Linked DNA regions of Homo sapiens: region 2 is linked to region 1. The links come from fine-mapping of genetic effects on gene expression. A gene starts in region 1. The other region holds a variant in brackets. All regions are shown on one strand. Distances are between the middles of the regions. Region 1 holds the start of COQ4 (coenzyme Q4). Region 2 has its middle 12 kb from the start of MIR219A2HG.

What was found.
Region 2: its variant is fine-mapped to the expression of COQ4 in esophagus mucosa (GTEx, PIP 0.99).

What each region holds. Positions count from the first base shown.
Region 1 is chr9:128,317,759-128,327,687 of GRCh38, reverse strand. COQ4 (coenzyme Q4) reads right to left here and starts at 4,849. Exons shown (of 7, transcript NM_016035.5): 1 at 4,760-4,849; 2 at 4,541-4,672; 3 at 2,449-2,545; 4 at 1,807-1,909. The coding sequence starts at 4,829. It overlaps TRUB2 (TruB pseudouridine synthase family member 2), which reads left to right and starts at 5,241. Exons shown (of 8, transcript NM_015679.3): 1 at 5,241-5,388; 2 at 5,958-6,089. The coding sequence starts at 5,280. RefSeq lists a silencer at 4,562-4,621 and an enhancer at 5,002-5,541.
Region 2 is chr9:128,401,003-128,410,931 of GRCh38, reverse strand. No RefSeq gene overlaps it. Among named protein-coding and RNA genes, the nearest start is that of MIR219A2HG, 12 kb to the right of the region's middle. RefSeq lists an enhancer at 5,375-6,175. The variant G/C (reference allele first, on the strand shown) is at 5,720.

The sequences.
Region 1 (9,929 bases):
GCTGGGACTATGGGTATACACCACCACACTTGGCTAATTTTTGCATTTTTTGCAGAGACAGGGTTTCACCATGTTGTCCAGGCTGGTCTCAAACTCCTGGGCTCAAGTGATCCGCCCACTTCAGCCCCCCAAAGTATTAGGATTACAGGCATGAGCCAACACGCATGGACCAGTGCCAGAATATTCTAATTACTTGAAACATTTTACCTGTATTTTTATATGAATTTTTTTGTTTTGTTTTGTTGGAGACAGAGTCTCACTCTGTCGCCCAGGCTGGAGTGCAGTGGTGTGATCTCAGCTCACTGCAACCTGTGCCTCCCGGGTTCAATCAATTCTCCTGCCTCAGCCTCCCGAGTAGCTGGGATTACAGGCGCACACCATCACACCTAGCTAATTTTTGTATTTTTAGTAGAGACAGGTTTCCACCATGTTGGTCAGACTGGTCTCAAACTCCTGACCTTAGGTGGTCCTCCCGCCAGCCTCCCAAAGTGCTGGGATTACAGATGTGAGCCACTGTGCCTTCCCTGAAAATTTTTAAAAACTATTTTATTGTCTACCTCTCGAAGTAGAATAGAAATGAGGGCAGGGAACTTGGCTGTCTAGTTCACCATTATATCCCCTGTACACAAAACAATGGTTGGGCTGGGCACGGTGGCTCACACCTGTAGTCCCAGCATTTTGGGAGGCTGAGGCAGGTGGATCACTTGAGGTCAGGAGTTCAAGACCAGCCTGGTTAATATGGTAAAACCCCTCTCTACTAAAAGTACAAAAATTAGCTGGGCGTTGTGGTGTGCACCTGTAGTCCCAGCTACGTGGGGGGTTGAGGCAGGAGAATCGCTTGAACCCAGGAAGCTGAGTTGCAGTGAGCCGAGACGGCGCCACTGCACTCCAGCCTGGGTGGCAGAGCGGGACCCTGTCTCAAAACAAAACAAAACAAAAAGGATGGGCCGGGCGCTGTGGCTCACGCCTGTAATCCCAGCACTTTGGGAGGCTGATGCGGGCGGATCACGTGGTCAGGAGATCGAGACCATCCTGGCTAGCACGGTGAAACCCCGTCTCTACTAAAAAATACAAAAAATTAGCCGGGCGTCGTGGCGGGCGCCTGTAGTCCCAGCTACTCGGGAGGCTGAGGCAGGAGAATGGCGTGTACCTGGGAGGCGGAGCTTGCAGTGAGCAGAGATCGCACCACTGCACTCTAGCCTGGGCGACAGAGCGACTCAAAAAAAAAAAGGGATGGCACATAGCAGAGCCTCAGTTAGTGAATGAGTTTGCCAATAGTCGGGACACCCCCTTTCCCCCTCTCCTTGTCCTCCCTGCCTGGGGCTGGAGGGGCTGGAGAGTGCCACACCTGCCATACCGTAGGGAAAGCAATGTCCCTGGAATAAAGGGATACAGTACAGCAGTGAAGAGCATGATCTGGGATTGATTACTATCTCCATTAATACCAGTTATGTGGAATTAGCAAGTTTGCTTCACTGCTCTGAGCCTCTGTTTCCTTATCTGCTAAAAGAGGATAATAATAGAACATACTTGACAGAGTTGTGGGGGGATTCAGCAAGATCACGGATGAGGCTGGCATCAGGCATGCAGTGCGAGGTTAATGAACACTGGCCAGTATTATCAATTGCAGGCATGTTCCCACCCATTTGCCTATCCCATAGAAAATGACAAAGCCTTGGCATGAGCCTGAAGAGCACTCCTGCCAATGGTGGCAGCTCAGGGCTCCTCTTTCCTCAGGGTGTCATGCCTGTGCTATTCCTCTGTCCTGTCTGGTGACTGCCAGATACACAGGAGCTGAAAACTCACGTTCACATCCAGGAAACGGAGATACTCGCGACCGAGGGAGCCTTCCGGCAGGCTCTGGAGCTTGCCCAGGTCGAGGGTGGATGTCGAAATCCGGGGACGCTCCCTGAAAGGCAAGACTTGGGCATTGGGAGGGTGTGGGCAAAGGTAGGTGAACGATCCAACTACAGCGAGCTGAGGGGCGGGAGAATGTACAGAGGAGCAATGTGGCCACCACAAGCCTTAATGGAGCACCTACAACTGGCCAGGCTAGTGTCAGGGACTTAGGATACTACCCCAAACCAAGGACATGGGCAGGGGTACAATCTCGGCAGGAAGACAGTCCTCGAATGTGACCAGAGTACTTGCAAAAGGTACTGCAAGGGAGGGGTAAAGCCAGCACATGTTATGGGAACTTAATGAAGGCACAGAGCCCTGTGGTTGAAACTGGGCCAAGGCTATCACACTGCACAACTCGGAAGTCATCAGTGTATACACATGTATGTGAATGACACCCCTGGAATTGGGCAGTGCCCAGCCTGTGCAACCATATGTAGCCAGGGTATCAAAAGCTCCCTAGCGGAACAGAACAAACACAATGTGATTCTAGAGAGGTCAGAATACCTAGAGAATGCCCCCAGACCCCCAGGCAGAGCTGGGACCTACTGCAGGATCTGGGCACCCTCTGGATCCCTCCTCATCTGGTCCCTGAGGACCTTCAGGGTGCGGTGTCCTGTGGTCTCCCCTAGAACTGCGACCATGTCTGAAAGGACAGAAACGGGCACAAATGGGGGATGTCATCTTAGGTAAGTTAGCTGACCTGGTCTGAGCCTTTGTTTCCTACAGGATAAATTAGGGATGATGTCTAGCTCTTTGTTATAAGGATTCAGGCTAAACACTTAGCAAATTACCCAGCACACAACAAGGGATCAGTATACATATCTATAGTTCTTATTCTTAATCTACTGGGGCGGGACAGCTCTAGTTAGCACAACGTTGTAAAGATTTTATAAATCACTTTTCACAATACAATATCATGTCTCCATTGATTGGTAGAGGCTTAGGCATCAGAGATGCTGGGCTACAGTCCAGGTGTGTTCACTATCTAGGTGACCTAGTACAAATTGCTTCACATTTCTGTTTTGTTTTGTTTTTTTGAGACAGGGTCTTGCTCTGTTGCCCAGGCTGGAGTGAAGTGGTGTGATCATAGCTCACTGCTAGGACTACAGGCATGCAGCTAGTTTTTTAAATTTTCTGTAGAGATGAGGTCTTGCTATGTTGCCCAGGCTGGTCTTGAACTTTGGCCCCAAGTGATCCTCCCACCTTGGATTCCCAAATTGCTGGGATTACAGGTGTGAGCCACCATGCCTGGCCTGCTTCACATTTTTCAGCCTCAGTGTCTTAATTTGTGAAGTGCAGACAACACCTTTCTTAGCTGGTTAATGTGAGAAACCATGAAAATCATATATATATAACACTTAGTGGCCAAGTGTAGCGGCTGACACCTGTAATCTCAACACTGGGGGGCTGAGGCAGGAGGATCACTTGAGGCCAAGAGTTCCAGAGCAGCCTGGGCAACGTGGCAAGACGCCGTCTCTACAAAAAAATTAAAAAATTCGCTGGTCTTGGCCGGGCGTGGTGGCTCATGCCTGTAATCCCAACACTTTGGGAGGCCGAGGTGGGAGGATCACCTGAAGTCAGGAGTTTGAGACCAGCCTGGGCAACATAGCAAAATCCCGTCTCTACTAAAAATACAACAATTAGCCAGGCCGCACAGGCCTGTAATCCCAGCTACTCAGGAGGCTGAGGCACGAGAATCGCTTGAACCTGGGAGGTGGAAGTTGCATAGAGCTGAGATTGCGCCACTGCACTCCAGCGTGGGCCACAGAGCAATACTGTGTCTCAAAACAAAACAAACAAAAAACCACTGGGGACATGGAGATATAGTGTATTTTTTGTTTAAGACAGGGTCTCGCTCTGTCGCCCAGGCTGGAGTGCAATGGCGCAATCACAACTTACTGCAGTCTCGAACTCCCCGGCTCAAATGGTCCTTCCACCTCAGCCTGGGAATACAGCCGCATGCAACCAGCCCCAATTAATTCTTGTATTTTTTTTTGTAGAGATGGGGATTCACCGTGTTGCCCAGGCTGGTTTCAAACTCCTCAGCTCAAGCCATCTGCCCGCTTCGGCCCCCCGATAGGGATTATAGGCGTGAGCCACTATAATAGCGCCTAGCCTGTTTTTGTTAGTAGGAATAACAGTACTTCCCAGAACTCAAAAATCTAGGAGGCATAAGAAAAACACTGTAGAACCCTAGAATGTTCTAGTCACACATCCAGCAAACATTTATTGAGCATTTACTATGTGCCAGGCACTATCCAGAAGGCTGCAGATGCAGTGGAACGAGGCAGACATGGTCCTCGACCTCGGAGTTGACTTTCTAGTAGGATATTATAAACTGATCGGTACTTATGAATCATCTATTTAGTCTAGATGTTCTCAATATGGCTGCATGACAGATTCTCCCAAGTAGTTTAAAGACAGACTTTCGGTTTCACGCCCATTTCTCCCTCCACTGCAGATTCAGATTCAGATTCAGTGCGTTTAGGTGGGATCCAGGAATCTGCATTTTCATAAACGTTCCGAGTGGTTACGAGCTGCAACCAGGTTTGGGTACCCCGACCTAGGCTATGTTCCAGTTACCCACAGGAAACGGCTCCAAGCCGCCCCCACGGGGGCGAGGCGCGGGCGGCCTTACCGTGGCGGTAGGGGTTATAGAGCGCCATCGCCGCGGAGCCGGCGGCCAACAGCCCTTTCTGCAGCGGGGAGGTGGGGAGGTGGTGCGAGTATAGCGGGCCGGCGCCGTCGCTCCTAGCCCGGAGGGGCATTTCTGCGGGGCAAGAAAAAGGCCGAGGTCAGAGGAGCCGGGCGCCCTCAGGCTCCTTCCCGCCTGCGCCCAGAACCCGGCGCCACTTGCCTGCCGCAGGCCGCTGTAGGCCCGGGAGCCCGCAGAGCCGACGGAGGACAGGGCGCAGCAGAGTCGCCATGGCAGCGGGCGTCCGCGGAGGATGGGCGGGTACGAAGAACGCCGCGATTCTGTCAGGCGACGGAGCGTCGGAGGGGTCAAAACTCACTGAAAAACCGATTCTGACGGCGTAGCCTACGGCCTTTCGAGGGGAAACATCGCTTCACGGGCAGAAGGCATGTAGGCCAAGTAGGCGAAGGAAACGCACGCGAACTGTCTACCGTCTACGTCCACCGATCCAAGACTCTCGCCATGTCACCTCGCCCCAGAAAGTGTCTGCAAAGGACACGCAACCACGCTCACTCAGCGCCGGGCCCTATTTCCTTCTCCACAGCCGGTTTTCCCCGAAGACTATAAAATGCGAACCTCTTCCGGCTGTGGAACATGGCGGCGCCCGTGGAAAGGACCACATTTGGGGGCGGGGCCTGGCGGTACTTCCGTCCAGGTCCAGCGGGTGCTGTGATCTTCAAGTATGGGGTCTGCTGGCTTGTCGCGGCTGCATGGGCTTTTCGCGGTCTATAAGCCCCCGGGGCTAAAATGGAAGCACCTGCGGGATACAGTGGAGCTACAACTTCTGAAGGGTGAGTGCCTCGAACCAGACCCACGTTCCCGCTCTCGTTCTCTTGGAAGTCCATCTCCGCTTCTGGTCCTTACCCCAAAACAAAATCACGTGACCTATTCACCTGGGCAGAGCGCTTTCCCAAACGCCTGTTCTCTGTGCTTTCTTACTCCTCACTTTCCTCTGTTTTCCGAGGGGGAAACTGACTCAGTATTGTTCCTTGTCACACGGTTACTACGTTGTAGAGTCTGTTTGAATCCGCCTGTTTCTTAACTACTGCTATACTGCCCTCTGCACCATGGGCTTCTGCTTTGTCTTCTACATCATACTTCCCTGTTGTCTAATCCCCCAAGTGTTTGGACAGAACAAGATATTCCTGGTCAGCATCGTGGTGCACGCCTGTAATCCCAGCTACTCTGGAGGCTGAGGCAGGAGGATCGCTTGAGCCCAAGAGTTTGACGTTACAGTGAGCTATGATGGCGCCATTGCACTTCAGCCTGGGCTACAGAACGAGGCCCTGTCTCTTAAAAAATATTTTATATGTACATATATTTGTATGTATGTGTGTATATATTATCTCTGTGTGTTCAGGTCTCAATGCCAGGAAGCCTCCCGCTCCTAAACAGCGTGTTCGCTTCTTGCTGGGCCCCATGGAAGGCAGCGAAGAGAAGGAGCTGACCCTCACAGCCACCAGCGTACCCTCTTTCATCAACCATCCACTGGGTAAGGCAGATTTAAGCAGGATCCTGTGTGTCACTTCCCAGGAAATCCCTGAGCCGAGTCAGTGTCCCAGTGCTCAGATTCCTGTGCCAGGCCCTTGAAGGTCCACAGAGGAGTGAGGTATTAGACCAGGAATTGGCAGATTTCCTTGGAAAGGGCCAGATACTGAATGTTTTAGTTTTCAGGCCATGTGATTTCCGTTGGAACTGCTCAACTCTGCCAATGTAGTGCCAAACAGCTATAGACAGTATCTAAAGGAATGAGCCTAGCTGTATTCCAATAGAACTTTATGAATATTCATATTTGAACTTCAGGTAATTTTCACGTGTCACTAAGTACAGTTGCCTCTGAGTCCATGAGTTCCACATCCCATGATCCAGCTTCAGATTGGCAGTATTTGGGAAGAAAAACACAAAGTTCCAAAAAGCAAAACTTGAATTTGCTGTGCACCTAGTACTGTGTTGAATCCACTCAAGGTGATGCATAGGCATTATATTAGGCATTATAAGTAATCTAGCTAGGCGTGGTGGCTCACGCCTGTAATCCCAGCATTTTGAGAGGCCGAGGAGGGTGGATCATGAGGTCAAGAGATCGAGACCATCCTGGCCAACATGGTGAAACCCCGTCTCTACTAAAAATACAAAAATTAGCCGGGAGTGGTGGCAGGCGCCTGTAGTCCCAGTTGCTCAGGAGGCTGAGGCAGGAGAATCACTTGAACCCGGGAGGCGGAGGTTGCAGTGAGCCGAAATTGTGCCACTGCACGCCAGCCTGGCAACAGAGCGAGACTCCGTCTCAAAAAAAAAAAGGTAATCTAGAGATGATTTAAAATATATGGGAAGGCCAGGCCTGGTGGCTCATGCTTGTAATCCCAGCACTTTGGGAAGCTGAGGCGGTGGATTACTTGAGCCTAGGAGTTTAACATCAGCCTGGGCAACATGGGGAAACCCTACTTCTACAAGAGAATACAAAAGGCCGGGTGCAGTGGCTCACACCTGTAATCCCAGCACTTTGGGAGGCTGAGGCGAGCAGATCACCTGAGGTCGGGAGTTCGAGACCAGCCTGGCCAACATGGAGAAACCCCGTCTCTACTAAAAATACAAAATTAGACAGGTGTGGTGGCACATGCCTATAATCCCAGGTTCTCAGGAGGCTGAGGCAGGAGAATTGCTTGAACCCGGGAGTCGGAGGTTGCGGTGAGCTTAGGTTGTGCCATTGCACTCTAGCCTGGACAATAAGAGTGAAACTGTCTCAAAAAAAAAAAAAAATTAGCCAGGTGGGGTGGCATATGCCTGTAGTTCCAGCTACTCGGGAGGTTGAGGTGGGAGAATCACTTGAGCCCAGGAGTTCAGAGGCTGCAGTGAGCCGAGACTGTGCCAGTGCACTCCAGCCTGGGTGACAGAGTGAGACTCTGTCTCCAAAAAAAATAAAGAGGCTGAGGTGGGCGGATCACGAGGTCAGGAAATCGAGACCATCCTGGCTAATACGGTGATACCCTGTCTCTACTAAAAATACAAAGAAATTAGCCGGGCGTGGTGGTGGGCGCCTGTAGTCCCAGCTACTCCAGAGGCTGAGGCAGGAGAATGGCGTGAACCCAGGAGGCGGAGCTTGCAGTGAGCGGAGATCGTGCCACTGCACTCCAGCCTGGGCGACACAGCGAGACTCAGTCTCAAAAAAAAAAAAAGTGGCCAGGTGTGGTGGCTCACGCCTGTAATCGCTGCACTTTGGGAGGCCAAGGTGGGCGGATCACTTGAGGTCAGGAGTTCAAGACATGGCAAAGCCCCGTCTCTAGTAAAAATTAGCTGGGCATGATAGCACGTACCTGTAATCCCAGCTACTCAGGAGGCTGAGTTACGAGGAGTCGCACGAACCTGGGAGGCAGAGGTTGTGGTGAGCCATGATCGTGCCACTGCACTCCAGCCTGGGTGAAAGAGTGAGACTCTGCCTCAAAAAAAAAAAAAAAAGGTATATGGGACGACATGCCTAGGTTATATGCAAATACTATGCCATTTTATATCAGGGACTTGAACATCTACAAATTTTGGTATCTGCAAGGGATCCTGGACCCAATCCCCTTGGATACCAAGGGACAACTGTAGTATTCTATTTATTTAGAGACAGGGTCTCACTCTGTCACCCAGGCTGGAGGGCAGTGGTGAGATCTCGGCTCACTGAAACCTCTGCCTCCTGAGTTCAAGCAGTCTTCTCACCTAAGCCTCCCGAGTAGCTGGGACTACAGGCACAGGCCACTATGCCTGGCTAATTTTTTTTTTTTTTTTGAGACGGAGTCATGCTCTGTTGCCCAGGCTGGAGTGCAGTGGCACGATCTCGGCTCACTGCAAGCTTCTCCTCCTGGGTTCACGCCATTCTCCTGCCTCAGCCTCCCGAGTAGCTGGGACTACAGGCGCCCGCCACCACGCCCAGCTAATTTTTTGTATTTTTAGTAGAGACGGGGTTTCACCATGTTAGGCAGGATAGTCTCGATCTCCTGACCTCGTGATCCACCCGCCTCGGCCTCCCAAAGTGCTGGGATTACAGGTGTGAGCCACCACGCCCGGCCATGCCTGGCTAATTTTTGTATTTTTTGTAGAGATGGGGTTTTGTCACGTTGCCCATGCTAGTATTGAACTCCTGGGCTCAAGTGATCTGCCTGCCTCGGCGTCTCAAAGTGCTGGGATTATAAGCGTGAGCCCTTGCAACTGGTCTCTTGATTTATTTTGAACCACTGAAAAATGCAAAAACCATTCTTAACTCATAGGCCACAAAAAACAAGCCAGATGCGGTGGCTCATTCATGTAATCCCAGCACTTTGGGAGGCCGAGGCAGGCGGATCACTTGAGGTCAAGAGTTCAAGACCAGCCTGGCCAACATGATGAAACTCCGTCTCTACTAAAAATACAAAAAATTAGCTAGGTATGGAGGCAGGTGCCTGTAATCCTAGCTACTCAGGAGGCTGAGGCATGAGAATCGCTTGAATCTGGGAGGTGGAGGTTGCAGTGAGTTGAGATGGCGCCACTGCACTCCAGCCTGGGTGACAAAGTGAGACTCCATCTCAAAACAAAACAAAACAAAACAAGCAAACACACACACACAAAAAAAAAACAGTCTTCAGTCTTCAGGTTTGACTTGTGGACTGTAGTTTGCTGACCCTTTTTCTATTCTGGGACTCCAGGTGAGAAATGAGACCCTAGGTAGAAGTCCTAAGGTAGGGGTTTTGGGTTTCTGGGAAAGAATAAGTTTATTTATTTATTTATTTGACAGAGTCTTGCTCTGTTGCCCAGGCTGGAGTCTGGAGTGCAGTGGTGTGATCTCAGCTCACTGCAACCTCCATCTCCCAGGTTCAAGCTATTCTCTTGCCTCAGCCTCCCAAGTAGCTGGGATTACAGGTGTGTGCCACCACACCCAGCTAATTTTTGTATTTTTAGTAGAGATGGGGTTTCACCATGTTGGCCAGGCTGGTCTCGAACTCCTGACCTCAGGTGATCCGCCCACCTTGGCCTCCCAAAGTGCTGGGATTACAGGTGTGAGCCACTGCGCCCAGCCGAAAGAGTGATTTTTTTACTGAATAAAGTTGCCCAACAATGGAACTGGTTCTGGTAATGTGTCCCCATCACTAGATGTGATTAAGGCATGTGTCAGGGAATCTAGAGGTTTGACCAGAAACCTCAAAAACCCGTTGGACTTGTGATATTCAATGACTCTATTATATGGTAACAATAAGAAGTATAATGTATTGAGTCGCCACTCTGTACTAGGCATTGTGTTAAGCTTCCCCCAAGTACAATCCTCATTGATATCACCACAGTGCTGTGAGATGGGTCCTATTTTCATTTCACAAGGGAGAAA
Region 2 (9,929 bases), 83 kb before region 1:
CTGACCTCAGGTGATCCACCTGCCTTGGCCTCCCAAAGTGCTCAGATTACAGGCATGAGCCACCGTGCCCAGCCTGCTAAGTGCTTTAAATGTATTATATAACTTGATTTTCACGACAACCCTGTGAAGTCAGGAAATCTTTTTTTTTTAATTTTTTTTTGAGATGGATTCTTGCTCTGCCGCCTAGGCTAGAGTGCAGTGGTACTATCTTAACTCAGTGCAACCTCTACCTCCCTGGTTCAAGCAATTCTCCTGCCTCAGTTTCCCAAGTAGCTGGGATGACAGGCACGTGCCACCAGGCCCAGCTAATTTTTGTATTTTTAGTAGAGATGAGGTTTCACCATGTTGACCAGGCTGGTTTTGAACTCCTGACCTCAAGTGATCTGCCCGCCTTGGCCTCCCAAAATGCTGGGATTATAGGTGTGAGCCACCATGCCTGGCCAGTTGGGAATATTTTTATTTTACAGAAGAGGAAACCTTGAAACTGAGGCACGGAGAATCTAAATAAATCACTTGCCAAGCTCATCCAGAGTTGGGGTTTGGGGTTTGAAACCAAGTCTGCCTGTCTCACTCTGGCCAGCCCTGGTGACTCTGGAACTGCTGTTGGTGTTACTGTTTAAGTTCCCTGGAGCTTTTTGCCCCAGGCTTTCTCTCCCTGTCCTCAGTCGCCCCACCTGTGGAATGGGGACACTCTATGCATGGAGTAAACACCACCAGTTCTGAGTCTGGAGCTGTGTCAGGTTCTGTGCTCGATTCTTTCCAAGTATTTATTAGCGAATTACTCCTCCTGGTGGCTACGGTCGGCCTGGGCTAGAATCCCAGCTCTGCTGCCTCCAGACTGCCTGGCTTTGGGCAAGTGACTGGACCTCTCAAGAGTCTAGCAGTCTCCAAAGCTGCAAAATGGAGACAGGAAAAACGCCTCTGCATCTTTGATTTTGTTATGGAAAGGATGAGATGACGCAGATGAAGTGATTAGCCCAGGACCTGACCCAGAGGTAGTGGGTGGGAAATGCTGCCTGTTACTCTTCTATTTAACCACAATGGTCAAGGGCAGGATCCAAGTGGCCCATGCACCACCGCGTGCCCCCATGCTCAGCTCAGAGCTGGTACGTAGGAGGGCTCCATCATTACCTGTGAATGAACCTGGTCCGTGGTCCCCACATGGGGAAAGCAGGCTGGGAGAGGGCCACACCTGTCCAAGATCACACAGTTACCGGGTGGAGCTGGATTCAGCCCCGTCCGTGAGTCTGCCAAGGTCCCCTGCTCTGACTCCTGTACCCCTAGGGCCTTCTCTCTCGAGGCCAGAACCTGGAGTAGGGAGGGGACAGGGGAACAGGGACAATCTCAGGGCTAAGACAACCCAGAAGGTGACTTGGCTGTGGCTGGGTGGGATCTCAGGGTCTGGGAACGACCCCTCAGGATGCAGTGACCCGTGCTCTCCCTTTTTGTCCTCTCCCCCCTGCCCACCATGGGTCAGTTCCCTGGTCCCAGCCTAGACATCTGGAACTGGGGCAGACAAAGGGCTGCGGGAAGGGACAATAACCTTCTGTCCATTTTCAGATGTCGGGCCGCGCCTGGCCAGGGCTGGGGGCCGGAGCCCCGGCGAGGCGGTGCCAGGCCCCCCGCGGGCAGCGGACAATGTTGGCAGTGATGGAGAGGAGGCATTTCAAAGCGTTTTGTTCCCGCTGACCCCCTCCCCCCAACATCTCGCCCCAGCTCGGGGCGAGGCCCCATCCCCACCCCCAGCCACCCAGGCCTCTGCTCTGGGCGGCTTGGGGACCAGCCACATTCTTGACCTCAGGGGAAAAGTTTAGACTCTTTGCGCCCTGGGCAACAATAACAGTGTCACAGAACTGATTTAGGAGCAGCACTTACCATCACAAAGCAGCAGACAAAGAGCCGGGCTGAGAACGCGCCGGGCCGCTGCGACTACTCCACCAACCGCGGCTCACTTCTCTCCAGGCTCTGCCAGGCAGGACTGGGTGCCAGGCCCCACACCCTAGGCACACCAGGGGAGGACTTGAGGTGGGCAGTCATCAAGAAGAGACAGGGGAAACCAACCGGGAATGTGGAGGACTGAGAGCTAGTTCCTGCTCCACCACCAATTTGCTACGTGACCCTGAGCAAGTCCTTCCCCACTGTGGGCCTCAGTTTCCCTATCTGTAGTAAGAAGGCTAAACTATAAGGCCAAAAGCACGAGGCTCTGATCTTGCAGGTAGAAGAGTTTCAATGAGGATGATGACAGTGGTGATGGTGGTGCTGCCAAGCCCCCCTCCTCCAACTCCTTTACCCCTAGGGCCTTCTTTCTTGAGGCCAGAACCCGGACTAGGGAGGGGACAGGGGAACAGGGACAATCCCATGGCTAAGTAAGACAACCCAGAAGGTGACTTGGCTGTGGCTGGGTGGGATCTCAGGGTCTGGGAACGACCCCTCAGGATGCAGTGAGAAGTATTTGCCACTTGGTCCTGTGCACTTCAGAGGTGCCAGGCACTGTGCTCACTAAGCCCTTTCAGACCTTCATACCCTTTTATCATGTAAACTTTTTCAGACTCACAAAGCAGATGTATAATTAGCTCCACTTTACACTTGATAAGCTAAGGCTCAGAGAAGTTCAGTCATTTGTCCAACGCCACACAGCCTGGAGGTTGTGGAGCCAATACTCAAGGCGGAGCCGCTTCCTTCCTGAAATTATACTCCAGTGGGAAGGAGAGAGGAACAACGAGGCAGCTGGACATGGTGAGTTCTGGCTGGGAGGGTCTTCCCTCCCTGCCAGAAGGCTATGAATAAAGAAATGTCTGCTTATCCCCAGGGGAAATTCCATCCTTGGAGCAGGTGCCTTTATTTATTTATTTATTTATTTATTTATTTATTTATTTTTTGAGACAGAATCTCGCTCTGTCACCCAGGCTGGAGTGCAGTGGCGCGAACTTGGCTCACTGCAACCTCCACCTCCCGGGTTCAAGCGATTCTCCTGCCTCAGCCTCCCGAGTAGCTGGGACTACAGGCACCCGCCACTACGCCTGGCTAATTTTTGTATTTTTAGTAGAGATGGAGTTTCACCATATTGGCCAGGCTGGTCTCTCAACTCCTGACCTTGTGATCAGCCCTCCTTGGCCTCCCAAAGTGCTGGGATTACAGGCGTGAACCACTGTGCCCAGCTGCAGTTGCCTTTAAAAACGAGGTTGGACAAGCACTTTGGGAGGCTCCCGCCTGTAATCCCAGCACTTTGGGAGGCTGAGGCAGGTGGATCACTTAAGCCCAGGAGCTCAAGACCAGCCTGGGCAACATGGCAAAACTCCATCTCTACAAAAAATACAAAAATCAGCCAAGCATGGTGGCCATTCACTCCAGCCTGGGCGACAGGGTGAGACTGTGTCTCAAAAAATAAAAATAAAGTTTATTTAAAAAAAAGCTTGATTGATTTTTATCTGTGAACAGAGGTGGGCCTGGGTAGACATCCAGATGCAGGGGATTGAATGCAATGACCTCCAGCGGAGGCCTCCTAGGAATCAGAGGCACTATGGAAGAACGTTTAAGGGATTGGGCTCTGCAGCCAAGCTATGGGCTTGAATCCCAGCTCTTTTTCTCGCAGTGTGTCCACAGATGAGTCACTTCAATGCTCCGTGTCTCAGTTTTCCAATCTGTAAAACTGACTCCACACTGCAGGAATGTGGTGACCACCATTCAGCAAGGTACGTGGACGACCTCAGAACAGAGCCTGACCCAGTGAGGAATGCCTGTTTCTACTCGGCAGGGTCCCCCCAGCCAGGTCCCACCTCAAAGCAGGAACCACTGGGGTGCTGTGGTATGCAGTCAGCTGTTGACCTTGCTTTTTGGGAAGTGGTTGGGCTTTAAAGACAACATGAGGGACTATGGTTAGACACCAAGAACAAAGACGCCATTCTCTGGGGGATGTAAGGCAAAAGCCAACCACGGCTTCCCAGGGATAGTCAGAGGAGATTGTGGCGCTCTGAGGCCCAGGCAGGGGCTGCTCCTGCTACTAGGCTGGGCCCTGGGCATGGTGCCTGGAGAGACAACAGAAAGGAAAGGCCTGGAGGTGCTAGGCAGAGTCGGCTCCCTCCACCCCTCAGCCTCTTAAATTCAGGGGGAAACTGCATGTGGAGAGGGAAAGAGAGAGGTGGTCAAAGATGGCTTCCATAACACAAACAGCCTGCGGTGTGATGAGGGGGCCTGGTGGGTTTGAGTACCAGCAGTTTGCTGTGTCACCCGGGATGAACTGCTAACTCTCTCTGAGCTCATTCCAAAGGTCTTTTAGAATCCAAAGTGTTAAAAGGAAACCATTACAGCAGCCTCTGTGATTTCACAAATCTAATCAGAAAGTTGGCTAGGCTGGGTGCGGTAGCTCAGGCCTGTAATCACAGCATTTAGGGAGGCTGAGGTGGGAGGATTGCTTGAGCCCAGGAGTTCAAGACCAGCCTGGGCAACATAGTGAGACCTTATCTTTTTTTTTTTTTTTTTAATATAAAGATATATTCCATGCAAGAGAGACCTCATCTTTTAAAACAGAAATTTAAAAATCATACAAATAAAAATAAAACACAAAAACCTGGCTGGGAATCCAGGAGTCCTATACCCTAGACTCCAGCCCCTCCTACCTCCTCACATTCCCAGCCCTCTCCTCCAGCTTCTCTAACCATCCCTTCAGCTCCCCTCACCAAACCATCAGTGACACACGAGTCCCAGACAGAGGGTGAGACAGTCACAACAGAAAAGGCCACAGAACCATGAGGACTCACGGAGATTGTGGGGGTCTTGGGGAGCCCCGACATGGACAACCTCTCCCTCCCTCACTGCCTGGCTGTGGGGCCAGAGGAGCACTCACCCGGGCAGAGCCTCTTGGGGGTACTCCTCAGCCCAGGAGGTGGATGGCACTGCTGGGGCGTCTCTGGCATAAGGTGACTCCCACCCAGCTCCTGCTGCTGAGAAGGACTGGTCAGGCGGGGCCCTCAGGTGCCAGACCGCCCTTCCCGGGCACAGATTTTCCTGGCATCTGCTGGGCAGGAAGGGCACTGGCTGGGGGTTGGGCAGAGGAGCAGGGAAAGATTTGAGCAAAGACGTCTCCCAGAGGGCTTCCCCCTAAACCTTCACCCCACTCTCCTTCTGGACACTGTAGGCCAAAGGTCCAGGAAGACAGGGAGCCTCAGGAGTGGGGAGAGGTCTGATCAAGGAGGCTGAGAGGAGCCCAGGCCCCTGCCCCCCGACCGCTCCCATCCACTGCCAGCAGGGCCCACACGGAGGTGTTTGCTTTTCCTGCCTCTACACTGACTCCATTCAGAGCAGCCGATCCCCACCCCCGGCCAACGACCAGAAAGTCAGGGCACCAGGGAGTGAGATCACGGCCCCCACCTCCCCCTCCACAACCCTTCCTGCCCTCTTCACTGCAGGAGATACCTCAGCCACAAGGGCTTCCTAGTTTCATGGACGACTGGGGCGTGGGGGGCTGGCAGGAGGAGAGAAAGAGGGAAACCAAGTCGAGAAGAGGGTGGTGGGAAGTATCTGAGGAGAGGGACGCAAAGGGACACGGACGATAGGGCTCCTGATGGAGGCGGCCCAGGCAGAGATGGGGCAGGGACAGGATGGGGGAGCCACAGAGCAGAGGACTGTCTAGGAGGCAGGCAGGGCCGTCACTAACCAGTCCAGGGCCTCACAGCCTGGCTCTGCACCGGTCACGGCCAGCAGGGCCCGGAGTGGACACTGA[G/C]GATGGGAGCTCCTGGCGCCCACCTGGAAACCAGCCTCCTTCTCATCCCCGGAACAAGGGCCCAGGCAGAGCTGTGACCTGGTCTGTGGCCAGGGGAAGGAGGAGGGTGAAAAGTTTCCCCAAGTCAGAAGGCCATGGGGGAGGCATCTCAGGGGGTCCTGCTCTTTGCTGTCTCTGACTGTCACATTGGTACATAAAGGGGGTAGAAAGGTCAGATGCGGCCTTTCAGGCCCGTGGGAAAAACTCAGCCCATTTCCCTAATCCATATTTATTGGTGTGAGACACTGGGGTGGGAGGAAGCCCGCTGCCCCCACCCGCCGCCCCAGCCAGGCCAGGTTAGCACTAAGAACAGGCTCCATGTCACCCAAATCCTACTCTTTGTCTCCAGATTGGCTCCAGAATCCTCCCCCATCCCTCCTCCCCTTGGTCCCCCCCACCCAACCCCCCTCGGGGTTGCCAAGCAACCATGGAAGGGTAGCTGAGATATTTTCTTTATTACAAGCAAAAGCAAGACAGCATCATGGCCCCAGGAGGGGAGCAGGGTGGGGGCTGGGGGAGAGGGTGTCCTGTGCTCTGGGGGGACTCAGCCACCTCCACTTGTTCTGAGCGTGAGCAGTGGGGAGACAGGGCCCCAGAGCCCAAGAGAAGGAGGGAGATGGAAGAGAGTGTTGGTGAAGGGGTGGGTGGAGTGTGCAGACACTGGTCCACTCTACACAATGCTAAAAGATGGGGTGGTGCCATGAGACCCAGGCCTGAGTCTCTCACCTGCCACCCACCAGCTGTGCCATCTGCACCCAAGTCACTTCCCTTCTCTGGGCCTGTTTCCTCCTTGATAAAATGGGAATAATAATATGTATTATCTCATTTAATCCTCACAAAAGACCCAGGAGATGTTTATTTTTCCTATTTTATTGGTTAAGGAAGCTGAGGTTGGGAGGTATGAAGTCATGTGCCAAGCAGGTAAGTGGCAGAGGTGGGATTCCTGAGCCCCATCCCTCTCTTTTTATCTTTTTTTTTTTTTTTTTGAGATGGAGTCTTGCTCTGTCACCCAGGCTGGAGTGCAGTGGCAGAGTGGCGGGATCTTGGCTCATTGCAACCTCCGCCTCCCGGGTTCACGCCATTCTCCTGCCTCAGCCTCCGGAGTAGCTGGGACTACAGGTGCCCACCACCATGCCCAGCTAATTGTTTGTATTTTTAGTAGAGATGGGATTTCACCGTGTTAGCCAGGATGGTGTCGATCTCCTGACCTCATGATCCACCCGCTTCGGCCAGTGCTGGGATTACAGGTGTGAGCCGCTTCGGCCAGTGCTAGGATTACAGGTGTGAGCCACTGTGCCCGGCCTCTTTTTTTTTCATAACAGCATTGTTGAGATGTAATTCACATGCCATGCAATTTGCCTACTTAAAGTGTATCATTCAACAGCTTTTAGTATATTCAAGAATTGTGCAACCATCACAACAAGCCATTTTATATTTTCATTATTTTGAAAAGAAAGCCCATACTCAGGCTGGGCGTGGTGGCTCACACCTGTAATCCCAGCACTTTGGGAGGTCAAGGTGGGCTGATCACCTGAGGTCAAGAGTTCAAGATCAGCCTGGGCAACATGGTGAAACTACATCTCTACTAGAAAAATACAAAAATTAGCAGGGCGTGGTGGTGGGCACTTGTAATCCCAGCTACTCGGGAGGTTGAGGCAAGGAGAATTGCTTGAACCCAGGAGACGGAGGTTGCAGTGAGCTGAGATCGCACCACTGCACTCCAGCCTGCATGACAGAGTGAGACTCCATCTCAAAAAAAGAAAGAAAGAAAGAAAGCCCATACTCATTAGCCATCATTCCCCATTTCTCCCCAACTGCCCTTCTCCCCAGCCCTAGGCAACCACTAATCTGCTTTCTGTCTCAATAGATTTGCCTATTCTGGATATTTCATGTAAATGGAATTATACAGTATGTCTAAGTCCCAATTATTATTATTTTTTAGACATGGTTTCTCTCTGTCACCCAGGCTGGAGTGCAGTGGCACACTCATGGCTCACTGCAGCCTCAACCTCCTAGACTCAAGTGATCCTTCTGCCTCAGCCTCCCAAGCAGCTGGGACTACAGGCACCCATCACCATGCCCAGCTAATTTTTTTTTTTTGCAGAGATGGGTTCCCACTATGTTGTCCAGGATGGTCTTGAACTCTCGTGAGTCCCAACTCCTTAACTTCCAATGGTTCCTACTTCACTGGGTACTGGGGCAATAGAGTAAGAGGAGTGAGGTGGTGAAGTATTGAAGAATGTGGTCTTTGCAGATACGCAGACTTAGGTCTAAAACAAACCTAGGGCCGGGTGTGGTGGCTCATGCCTGTAATCCCAGCACTTTGGGAGGCTGAGGTGGGCAGATCACCTGAGATCAGGAGTTCAAGACCAGTCTGACCAACATGGAGAAACCTCGTCTCTACTAAAAATACAAAATTAGTTGGGCGTGATGGCACATGGCTGTAATCCCAGCTACTTGGGAGGTTGAGGCAGGAGAATAGCTTGAACCTGGGAGGTGGAGGTTGCAGTGAGCCAAGATCATGCCATTGCACTCCAGCCTGGGCAACAAGAGCGAAACTCCATCTCAAAAAAAAAAAAAAAAAAAACCAAAACTCTAGCTCTTGGCAGGGCGTGGTGGCTCACAACTATAATACCAACACTTTGGGAAGCAGAGGTGGGAAGATCACTTGAGCCTAGGAGTTTAGGACCAGTCTAGGCAACATAGCAAGACCTCATCTCTCTTTTTTATTATTTTTTTTGAGACGGAGTCTCGCTCTGTCGCCCAGGCTAGAGTCCAGTGGTGCGATCTCGGCTCACTACAAGCTCCGCCTCCCAGGTTCATGCCATTCTTCTGCCTCAGCCTCCAGAGTAGCTGGGACTACAGGCGCCCTCCACCACGCCTGGCTAATTTTTTTGTATTTTTAGTAGAGACAGGGTTTCATCGTGTTAGCCAGGAAGGATCTCTCTTTCTTTCTTTTTAGACAGAGTCTCACTCTGATGCCCAGGCTGCAATGCAGTGACGAGATCTACACTCATTGCAACCTCCACTTCCTGGGTTCAAGCAATTCTCCCACCTCAGCCTCCAGAGTAGCTGGGATTACGGGTGCCCACCAACACACCCAGTTATTTTTTTTATTTTTTGGTAGAAACGGGGTTTCACCATGTTGGCCACACTGGTCTTGAACTCCTGAGCTCAAGCAATCCACCTGCCTCGGCCTCCCAAAGTGATGGGATTACAGGCACAAGCCACCGTGCCCGGCCTGGGACCCCATCTCTATTAAAAATAATAATAATTAATTGACACTGGGTGCGGTGGCTCATGCCTGTAATCCCAGCACTTTGAAAGGCTGAGGCGGGTGGATCACCTGAGGTCAGGAGTTCAAGACTAGCCTGACCAACACAGTGAAACCCTGTCTCTACTAAAAATACAAAATTAGCTAGGCGTGGTGGCACATGCCTGTAATCCCAGCTACTTGGGAGGATGAGGCACCCAGGAGGCAGAGGTTGCAGTGAGCCGAGATCACACCACTGCACTCTAGCCTGGGCAACAAGAGCGAAATTCTGTCTCAAAAAAAAAAAAAAAAAGATTAATTGAAATCAATAAAACCTATCTCTGTCATTCAGGAGCTCTGTACCTGGGGGAAGTTGCTTGCTCTCTCTTGGCCTCAGGTTCCTAGTGGGTAAAATGCGGAGAGTGATAGAATTTCTCTGAAGGGCTGTAGTGATGCATGTCAAGCGCTTAGCCCAGTGCTCAGTGCTTAATATATGGTAGTTGTTGCTAACTAGATTACAATGGTCCAGATTACAATGGTCCATGTATCTATTTATTCCTTGACCCAGGTATTTAATAAAACAGCACCTTCCGGCCGGGCGTGGTGGCTCACGCCTGTAATCCCAGCACTTTGGGAGGCCGAGGCGGGTGGATCATGAGGTTAGGAGATCGAGATCATCCTGGCTAACACGGTGAAACCCCATCTCTATTAAAAGTACAAAAAGTTAGCCACGTGTGGTGGTGGGCGCCTGTTGTCCCGGCTACTCGGGAGGCTGAGGCAGGAGAATGGCGTGAACCCAGGAGGCGGAGCTTGCAGTGAGCCGAGATCGCGCCACTGCACTCCAGCCTGGGTGACAGAGTGAGACTCCGTCTCAAAAAAAAGAAAAGGAAAAAAGAAAGAAAAACAAAAATTTAGCAC